Linked DNA regions of Homo sapiens: region 2 is linked to region 1. The links come from fine-mapping of genetic effects on gene expression. A gene starts in region 1. The other region holds a variant in brackets. All regions are shown on one strand. Distances are from middle to middle.

What was found. PIP is the estimated chance that this variant, and not a neighbour inherited with it, causes the effect. A credible set is the group of variants that fine-mapping cannot tell apart.
Region 2: its variant is the best candidate, but not a certain one, in a credible set for the expression of CMSS1 in T cells (TOPMed, PIP 0.51).

What each region holds. Positions count from the first base shown.
Region 1 is chr3:99,815,609-99,820,007 of GRCh38, forward strand. It overlaps CMSS1 (cms1 ribosomal small subunit homolog), which reads left to right and starts at 2,254. Exons shown (of 10, transcript NM_032359.4): 1 at 2,254-2,435. The coding sequence starts at 2,372. HP09053 (a long non-coding RNA gene) reads right to left here. Exons shown (of 3, transcript NR_110821.1): 2 at 3,312-3,366; 3 at 1,024-2,864. It overlaps LOC105374010 (a long non-coding RNA gene), which reads left to right and starts at 2,254. Exons shown (of 5, transcript NR_189163.1): 1 at 2,254-2,435. RefSeq lists a silencer at 1,935-2,689 and enhancers at 2,105-2,979, 2,211-2,520.
Region 2 is chr3:99,958,353-99,962,751 of GRCh38, forward strand. All of the region lies in intron 1 of CMSS1 (cms1 ribosomal small subunit homolog), which reads left to right. The region is part of intron 1 of FILIP1L (filamin A interacting protein 1 like); the gene reads right to left. All of the region lies in intron 1 of LOC105374010 (a long non-coding RNA gene), which reads left to right. Among named protein-coding and RNA genes, the nearest start is that of MIR3921, 3.8 kb to the right of the region's middle. The variant G/A (reference allele first, on the strand shown) is at 2,265.

The DNA of each region.
Region 1 (4,399 bases):
TGTGTTAGATGATATGATCAGATACTGGAGAGTACGGTTTTACAATACACTGATTTATAAACCAGGATGCCTATTCACTAATAACCAATTCACTAATAACAGAACAAACAGAACAGAAATGGATGCTACAACTTAGGTTGGCTATTCAATATAATCTGGGGTCAGTAAACTTTTTTCTGTAAAGTTAGAGCAAATATATGAGGGAATAGTAATAAATAGTAAATATATGAGGGCTACAGTCTCTGCTGCATATTTTTCTTTACGTTTTTGTTGTTGTCGTTGTTGTTTTGTTCTGTTTCTTACAATGCTTTAAAAATGTAAAAAATGGCTGGACACAGTGGCTTAGGCCTCTAATACCAACACTTTGGCAGGCTGGAGTGGGAGGACTGCTTGAAGCCAGGTGTTAAAGACCAGCCTGGGCAGCAAAATGAGACGCCATATCTACAAAAAACAAAAACAACAACAAAATAACCAAGAATGGTGGCATGTGCCTGTAGTCCCAGCTACTCGGGAGGCTGAGGCGAGGTGGAATATAATGTAAGACCATTCATAGTTCATGGTACAAAACAGGTATCAATTCCCATTAATGCATAGACACTCCATAATTTAGTATTGCCAGACTTCTTTTTTTTTTTTTTTTTTTTTTTTTTGAGACCGAGTTTCGCTTTTGTCAACCAGGCTGGAGTGTAATGGCACCATCTCGGCTCACCGCAACCTCCACTTCCCGGGTTTAAGCAATTCGCCTACCTCAGACTCTCAAGTAGCTGGAATTACAGGCGCCTGCCACCATGCCCGGCTAATTTTTGTATTTTTAGTAGAGATGGGTTTCGCCATTTTGGCCAGGCTGGTCTGGAATTCTTGACCTCAGGTGATTCACCCACCTCGGCCTCCCAAAGCGTTGGGATTACAGGCTTGAGCCACCGCGCCCGGCCCATACTTCTTAATTTTGTGATTTATTGCCTGAAAAACGGTCTCGCTGTGGTGTTTTTTTTGTATTTCCCAGATTAATAATCAGACTGAATTCTTTTCATGTTTATTAGCCATAGCAACTCCTCTTCCACACTGGCATTTCTTATCTTTTTCAAAAATCTATTAATCACGAAAATCTCGTCATCTACATTTCTTCACAAAAGCCATATTACTTTTGATCTTTATAGATTATTTTACATTTGCCATATTTATACATAATATCTTCCCTTTTGGGGCATTTAGAGTGTGCGGACAAAGTCTAGGCAGTAATGCATTTATAAAACATCTATGAGTTGGGTGCACACGGGGTAATTTTCCACATATGGCTAATCCTAGCCTCATCAGATTAAGTTTCCCTGTCTTGTCATTTCCGAGGATGTATCCTATTAGAAGTCTAGCCCTTTATTCCTACAAATTGAATTTCCACTACTGTAGGCTAACATCTGAATGGACTCATCTTACTATTCCATGCATAGTACCAGGCACGTTGCGTGCTTTTACTACATTTTGTATAATTTTTACGTCTGTGTTTGATGTCCTGAAAAATACCGTCCACAATTACTTCACAGCTAGCCCCAGCACTTGGCGCCCAGCGGGTTTTCCTAGTCCCTCCCTGCCAAATCACGTTGGGACTGAGACAAGAGGCACTGCGGGTCTCTTACCTATAGTTACGAAGCAATGGACTCCCTTATTACTTCGTTTCCCAAATAGGGGGTGGGACACACAACCGAGGGAGTATGAGGAAAACAACTTGCGGGTCTTCGAGCCACTTGCGTCTTTCTGTGGGCGAGCCTTTCCAGGCCAATTACATTTTCTTTACTCATATTGCATAAATAGCAGAACTACATTTACCACAAAGGCCCGACATTCATGGTCATGGATCCTTGCGCATGTTTTCTAAGAGCAAACTGTACAAACACATAAACTCTGAAACACTGACGCACAAGCGAAAACACACGCACATGTTTGGGTCTTCTCCCGCTGCGCAAGTTCTTTGAAACTGAGCGGAGAAAAATCGTCTTCACATGGTGTCTCACACTTTCGACACAATCTTATCGGGAAACGTAACACGTAAACAAAATTTTTTAAAATGCATTATCAAAAACGATGACAATCCCTTTCGTCTTATGTTCCTTTTTGTCTTTAAGCTTTGGGGGGATTTATGTTGCGTTTCCAAACTGCTTCTGCCTGTCGGCGCCTGTGTGGAAACTGCGACGAGTCTGGGAGCGGCTGCCGGAGAGGCGGGGCAGAGGTGTGACGTCATCGCCGCGGGGCGGAGGCGACAGTGTCTAGCGGGAGCTCCGCGTGTAGCTACGCCGGCCGCCTGGCTTTGAGACAACGTGATTCTCCGCAGCTGGTCGCCTACCCGTGATGTTCTGCCCACGTCGAGACCTGAGCTGAAATGGCAGACGATCTCGGAGACGAGTGGTGGGAGAACCAGCCGACTGGAGCAGGCAGCAGCCCAGGTACCCACTCTGTGCCCGCGCTCCTACGGGGCCTCTCCCGGAGCCCTTCCGTGCGCCTCAGCCCTGGTCGCTTCTGGCGATCGCGGTGTTTGCCCAGCAGGGGTGTGCACCGCCTTGGGAGCGCGCAAGCATCTCGGGGAAAATGGTGCAAGAGATTCTTTAACACGTGAAACAGACAGCTGTGACATTAACTCAGATCTGTCTGCCAGCCAGGAAGGATCCTTTCCACAAGCTTTCTCTTTTCCTTATTTCTTGAGAATGGATAAGACAGTTTTTGTGAAGAGAGGCAACTTTGTATGATGGTTAAGGGTGACCCATGAACTGCTTTCAATTCAGACTGAGGTCAGAAGCAGGGGTTGCTGCTTCAGACTCCCTCCATTCAAATCACGACTCCAGTATTCTGATACTGTTTAGCCTCCTTTTCCTCATCTGTAAAATAATGATAACAATAATGTCCATTTCGTAAAGTTGTGAAGATTAAGTGAAGTTAGTACAGTAATGCACTTTAGCATAGTGCTTGACATATAATGTGTGGTAAATATAAGTTACTGTATTTCTTGTGGTCATCATCATTATCATGGAATTTGGAATAGTAGAACTGGAAGGAGGCTTAAATAGAGATCATCCTTTGAACTCACTTATTTTACAGATGAGAAACATAACCTAAAGATGTCAAGTAACTTGACAAGTTCACAAAGCTAGCTCCTTTCAGAAACAATACTAGAATTCAGTTAACACAATTTGAATAGTTTCTACTATGCTCTGCTGTGTTTACCAACTCCTGATGCAGTGGGCATTTCATCCCCAAGTAGAGTAGCGTTAAGTGACCCCCCATGTCAGGCTAGCCTTGAACTTTTTAAGTTCCATCACACCTACCATGCAATTATTGGTTGGTTGGTTTTTATCACTCCTCAAGGTCTGCCTCTTTTCTCTACAAGAGAAGACAGGGCCAAAGTCAGATTCATACTTCTGTCATCCACAGGGCCCTGCACATGTTAGACACTTGATACCTATTTGCTGCAAACAATCTTGAAATACTAGTTGTGAAATATCCATTAAAAATAACCAACTTCATTTGTTGCATTGTTTCCGGAAGGTCAAGCCTTCAGGTACAAACTAAGCAGATGTCATTTTTAGAAAGGTAGCCAATACAACATTTCCTTGATTAAACTTCCTGACTCTTTTGCAGCCCTGTGGTGTTCCACATTTACTTTAATAACTACCCCTCCCAACTCAGGTGTTAAAAAGCTCTATTTTATGATATGATTGAAGATGAACAGAGGCCATTTAAGAAATAGTTGAATTCTGTTTGAGTGGTGAAGGGGATCCCAATTCTTGGTTCTAGTCCTCACTAGCTGTGTGACTTTCAAGTTATTCATCCGTTGGAAGAAAGGCAGTCAACATGTATTGAGTATCTATTATGTGACAAATGTCTTCATAAATATGAATTGATTTAACTTTCATAACATCCCGAAAAGGTAAGTATTCTCTTCATTTGTATAGGTGAAGAAACAGAAAAAAGTTAAGTCGTGTTCTTAGGAACACACATTGAAGAAGAGGTCTGGGAAGAGTTTAGTCAAGTGTGATTGATTTTGAAAGTCACGCTTTTCCCGCTACTACTTTGTGACTTCTCTGGGCCTTTGTATCATAATCTGTAAAGAGCCCTTAAAGATCATCTTTTTTAGGGTTTTACCAACCAACAGTTTTTTTTTTCTTTTTTTTTTTTTTTGACACGGAGTCTCCCTCTGTCGCCCAGGCTGGAGTGCAGTGGCACGATCTCGGCTCACTGCAACCTCTGCCTCCTGGGTTCAAGCGATTCTCCTGCCTCAGCCTCCCAAGTAACTGGGATTACAGGTGCCCGCCACCACACCCAGCTAATTTTTGTATTTTTAGTAGAGACGGGGTTTCACCATGTTGGCCAGGCTGGTCTTGATCTCTTGACCTCGTGATCTGCCCACCTCGGC
Region 2 (4,399 bases), 140 kb after region 1:
AGAGCCATGAAGAGAGAGAACTAGGGCCTGTTAATGCCAGCCATGAAAAAGCTGCTACAGTGGGCAGTGTGTGACTGAGCCCAGCAGGAAAGTGCTTACATAGCACTCAGGCCCACCTTTCAAGGACCATGCAAAGAAAGGAGACATTTGAGAGCCAACAAGAATTATAACATGTATGTGCCACAGAAGGGTAGGAGGAATTCCACGGGGAAATGGTCACATGGGTCTACGGTTAGTAGAATTAGACAACATTTCAGAATACACTTCCAGTGAAGCTTGGTTTGAATCTTGGTACTCTTGCAGGAGAAGAAGAGAGCTGGGGGCAGAGCAGGCAGTGTGAGGCATAGAGGCATGAGCCAGCAGGGCTCCTTCAGGGAACAGCAGTGTGGATCATGGGGCTAGAGCTTGAGGTTTTGGAGAGGCTGGTGATGTAGTGGAACAGGCAGAGAAGGGACCAGAGGAGATGTCAAAATGAACTGGAGATAGCTGTACTAGTTTGGCATCTTAAAGAATTTTGGCTTTACACTTAGGCAGTGGGAAGCTATTAGTTGTCTCTAAGCAAGTTTTCTTGTCTCTAAAATGGAAATAATGAGCTCTATACCACTGGATTCTTGTGTGTAAAAACAGCAAATTATCATGCCTTGGTAACTATTTGTTCCTTCATTTTTTTAATCCGATAAATTATTGAAATAGGTTATAAATGTAACAGAATTTGAAAACACATCAGGATATGATGGTAATTTAAAAAAAATTCATTGTGTAAATGTTCAAGTAGTTTCCATTTTTCCCAAACTTTATTTTTATTTTATTTTTTGAGGCAGAGTCTCACTCTCTTGCCCAGGTTAGAGTATAGTGGCACAACTTCAGCTCACTGCAACCTCCAACTCCCAGGTTACAAGTGATTCTCATGCCTCAGCCTCCTGAGTAGTTGGGATTACAGATGTGCAGCACTGTGCCCAGCTAATTTTTGTATTTTTAGCAGAGGCGGGGTTTCGCCATGCTGGCCAGGCTGGTCTCGAACTCCTGTCCTCTTGTGATCTGCCTGACTCAGACTCCCAAAGTGCTGGGATTACAGGCGTGAGCCACCGGGCCTGGCCATTTTCCTCAAACTTTAAATATTTTATTTTCTATATAAATATTAAAAAGAAGAGGAATTAAGTCATTTAATTTGTGTGTAGCTCTAATTCATTACATGGGTTGTATCAATTTTCTGAGCCTTAGTTTTCCACGTGTATAATTTCTTTAGCAGTCTGATAAATTGAATTTAGTAATCTGTAGACCAAAATGCTATAGCCTTTTAGAGATGGAACAAAATTAGTTGTAATAAAGATGCTTATTTTCTAACAGACTCCAATAAATAGAGCAATAATGAGTCTCCACTGGATTATCACATTAGCTCCCAGAGGACATGGGATAATTGTATAGAAAACAATTAAAGGAAGGGATTGTACTAATGTAATTTTTTTAGAATTACCCAACAGTAAGATTATGAGCATGGTTCTTGACTGAGCCCCCCAGCCCACTCAGTGTAGTAGGACTAAAACTCAGACCACTCCCATTGTACAAAGGAGATGCATTCAATGCATTCAGATGGCTAACATCTGTCACTTGCAGAAAAAAAGATGGGAGTTAGGCCTAGCTGTTCCTTTCACCTTTCCTCCTTTCCTGCCTCCCTCCTTCATTTATAAATTGTCTAAAGTGTGTATAGCATTATGCCTCTCAATGTTATAACGATTGGCTCCATCCCGACCTGGGTTAAGTTTAACATTGAAAAATTAGTGGTAGCTCACAACCTGCCAAGTACCGGAGAGAAGTAGTTCTTTTCTCTCCAAGATGTTTGACATCTTGGAAACGGCAGTTTCTGTGTGTTTTTCTAGTTAGAGTAGCCACCTTTACACACCTAGTTTTTGTTATTCCTCTCAACAACACTATGAGGTAGGTTTTAGGATCCCCATTTTACAGATGAGGAAAACGAGGGCTCCAAAAAGTTAAGTGGCAGAACCTGGATGTCAGATCAAACACTGTAACTCCCAGCCCAGCCCTCTTTACCACAGCTGCTCCTCAATTAGGCAGCCCAAGTGTTTGTCCCTACCCACAGGGGAAAAATCAAAGATTTTGAACACTAGTAGAAGCAACATTCTGATTAGGAATATAAAAGATTACAGCGTGAAGTGAAATAATCTCCCTCCTCACCTCCTGTAGGTCTTGCCCAAATCATTCTTTAGCATCTTCTTCTATCCCTCCCTCCTACAGTCTTTTTACCT[G/A]CTTCCTAATCATTAGATTGACATCTCAAGGTAGGGGAGAAGTAGGGGAGTCCAGAGTCCTGGTACTGGGATTGAGGGGAGGAACACTTTCACTTTCAGGGCTATTGTTCTTGCTTTCCTTTGTATGAAGTAGTATTTTCTGTTATTGATTTTATGTTTACTTACTGTCTGAATTGAATACTGTTAATTTATGTGCCCTTGGCTCTAAAGCTCTGGTTATATATTTTTGCGTTGTTAATATTTTTAATTGGTGTTTCTAAAGTAAATGTACTCTGTGTGTTTGGCAGACCAACAAAGTGAAATGTAAAAAGAGTCTATTTTTAAAAGTAACCATATAAGGTGAAAAGTCCCTTTTTGTGTGGGTGTGTGCATGCGTGTGTGCAGATCGCAGGTTTTATCAGGAACATATTCGTTAATATTTATTGTCACAGTTTACAGTGTGCCCCTTGAGTCCCTCTGGATTATGCACAGCCCAAATGACGTAACCTTGGAAAATGCAATAAATCTAAAGTTGGAAACCACTTCTAATAGGAAGTTTCTTGAAAGTTGTAAAGTTAAATTGCCTCTTCCAGGATGAGGGAGGTGGTGCGGAGAATGCCCGAGGGGATCCGGACTTGCCTCTTGCAGGTGTTATCCCCTGTGTTGGAATGCTGGGTTTGTGGGTTGGATTATTTTGTTTTGTTTTGTTTGAAATCCTCTGAGTATTTTTTTAACCCCAATACTCCATGGGGTGGCAAGCTTATATATATACCTTAAAATGTAACCTTTGATCATCCCTTTATGTATCTACAATGACTCTTATGCTATATATGCATACCCAGGAGCCCAGAAGTATAATTTAATTCATCAGAATCTTAACTTTGCAAGGAGACAGGCATTATGTAGTTCATTTTGCCAGCCCATGTGTGAACCCATCCAGTGACGTGCAGCTGAATACTGGTCAAAGTATCCCATGTTTTACATTTTAGGACATTCTTTGCCATATTATTTTGGGGAGCTGGAAAGGCTCCTGGGAACCGATACCTTTGGCCCTGGTGCCTCTTTTTGAAGCTACTTAGAATATTCTTTTATAAGTGATTTAGTCTAAAAAAAATTTTTTAAGAATATTCTTCTCCTTCCAAGACATTTGTAGATATTTAAAGATAATGACACCGATCTTGCCTTTCCCCCTTTCTAGATGTCAAACATCTTTAGGTCTGCCAACCTATTTTCTTATGTCATAGTTCGTTTGTACATTTGTAGAGCACAAACCGGGTATGCATTAGACACAGCTAGAAACTAGGGAAGCACTGAGGGACCAAGTAGTCTGTGATTCCTGCCCTTCAGGAACTTCTGATCTATTAATAGCAGAGTGGCAAGGGCTATTATAGGGGCCCCAAATTTAGCCTTGCTGATTGGGGGTTAGGGATGTCGGGGAAATTTTTCTGCAGGACACACCACACAAGCAAAGTCCTGAAGAGTACTATGAGTTACCCAAGGAAGCGAGATGAATGAGGAGAGGAAGGTATTCCAGGAAGGACTGGCTTGCTGGAAAGGCTGAAGGTGAGGGGATGCGTGGTGAGTTCAGGGAAGTGAGGGTGGTTCATTGTGGTTGAGGCACTAAGTGGGAGGTGAGGAGTGGGGAAAACAGATGCAGAAATGCTAGGGCAGAAACCAGGGCTAACAGTGGGAAGATGAGGTCGCATGTGATGGGAGAGTGGAAGATGATGGGCAGTCCTCATCAGGAAGGATATTTATTGTTCTCTTGGGAACATAATTACTATGGGCAACATAAAAGGTTCTGCATGAGGTCATTTAGGTTTTGGAATATTTTGTATATTATCTTTTGTTGTTAGAGAAAGGATATATTCAGTCATTAGGGTTAGACAGATATAGCTCTTTCAGTAGCATGACCATTTCTCCAGCAACAATATGTTTGGAGAAAGAAGAGGAAGAGATAATATTGTTTTAACATTCTTATGACTGTGAGAAACTTTGGTGGCTTTTATACACAGGATTATAATTAATAATAACAACAACAACAGCAACAAACACATATAGCACTGTAGGCCTGGTCCTGTTACAGTAAGAAATAGAATGTCCACATTAACTCTATGAGGTAGGTATTATCCTCAGATACAGTTAGTTTAAATAAC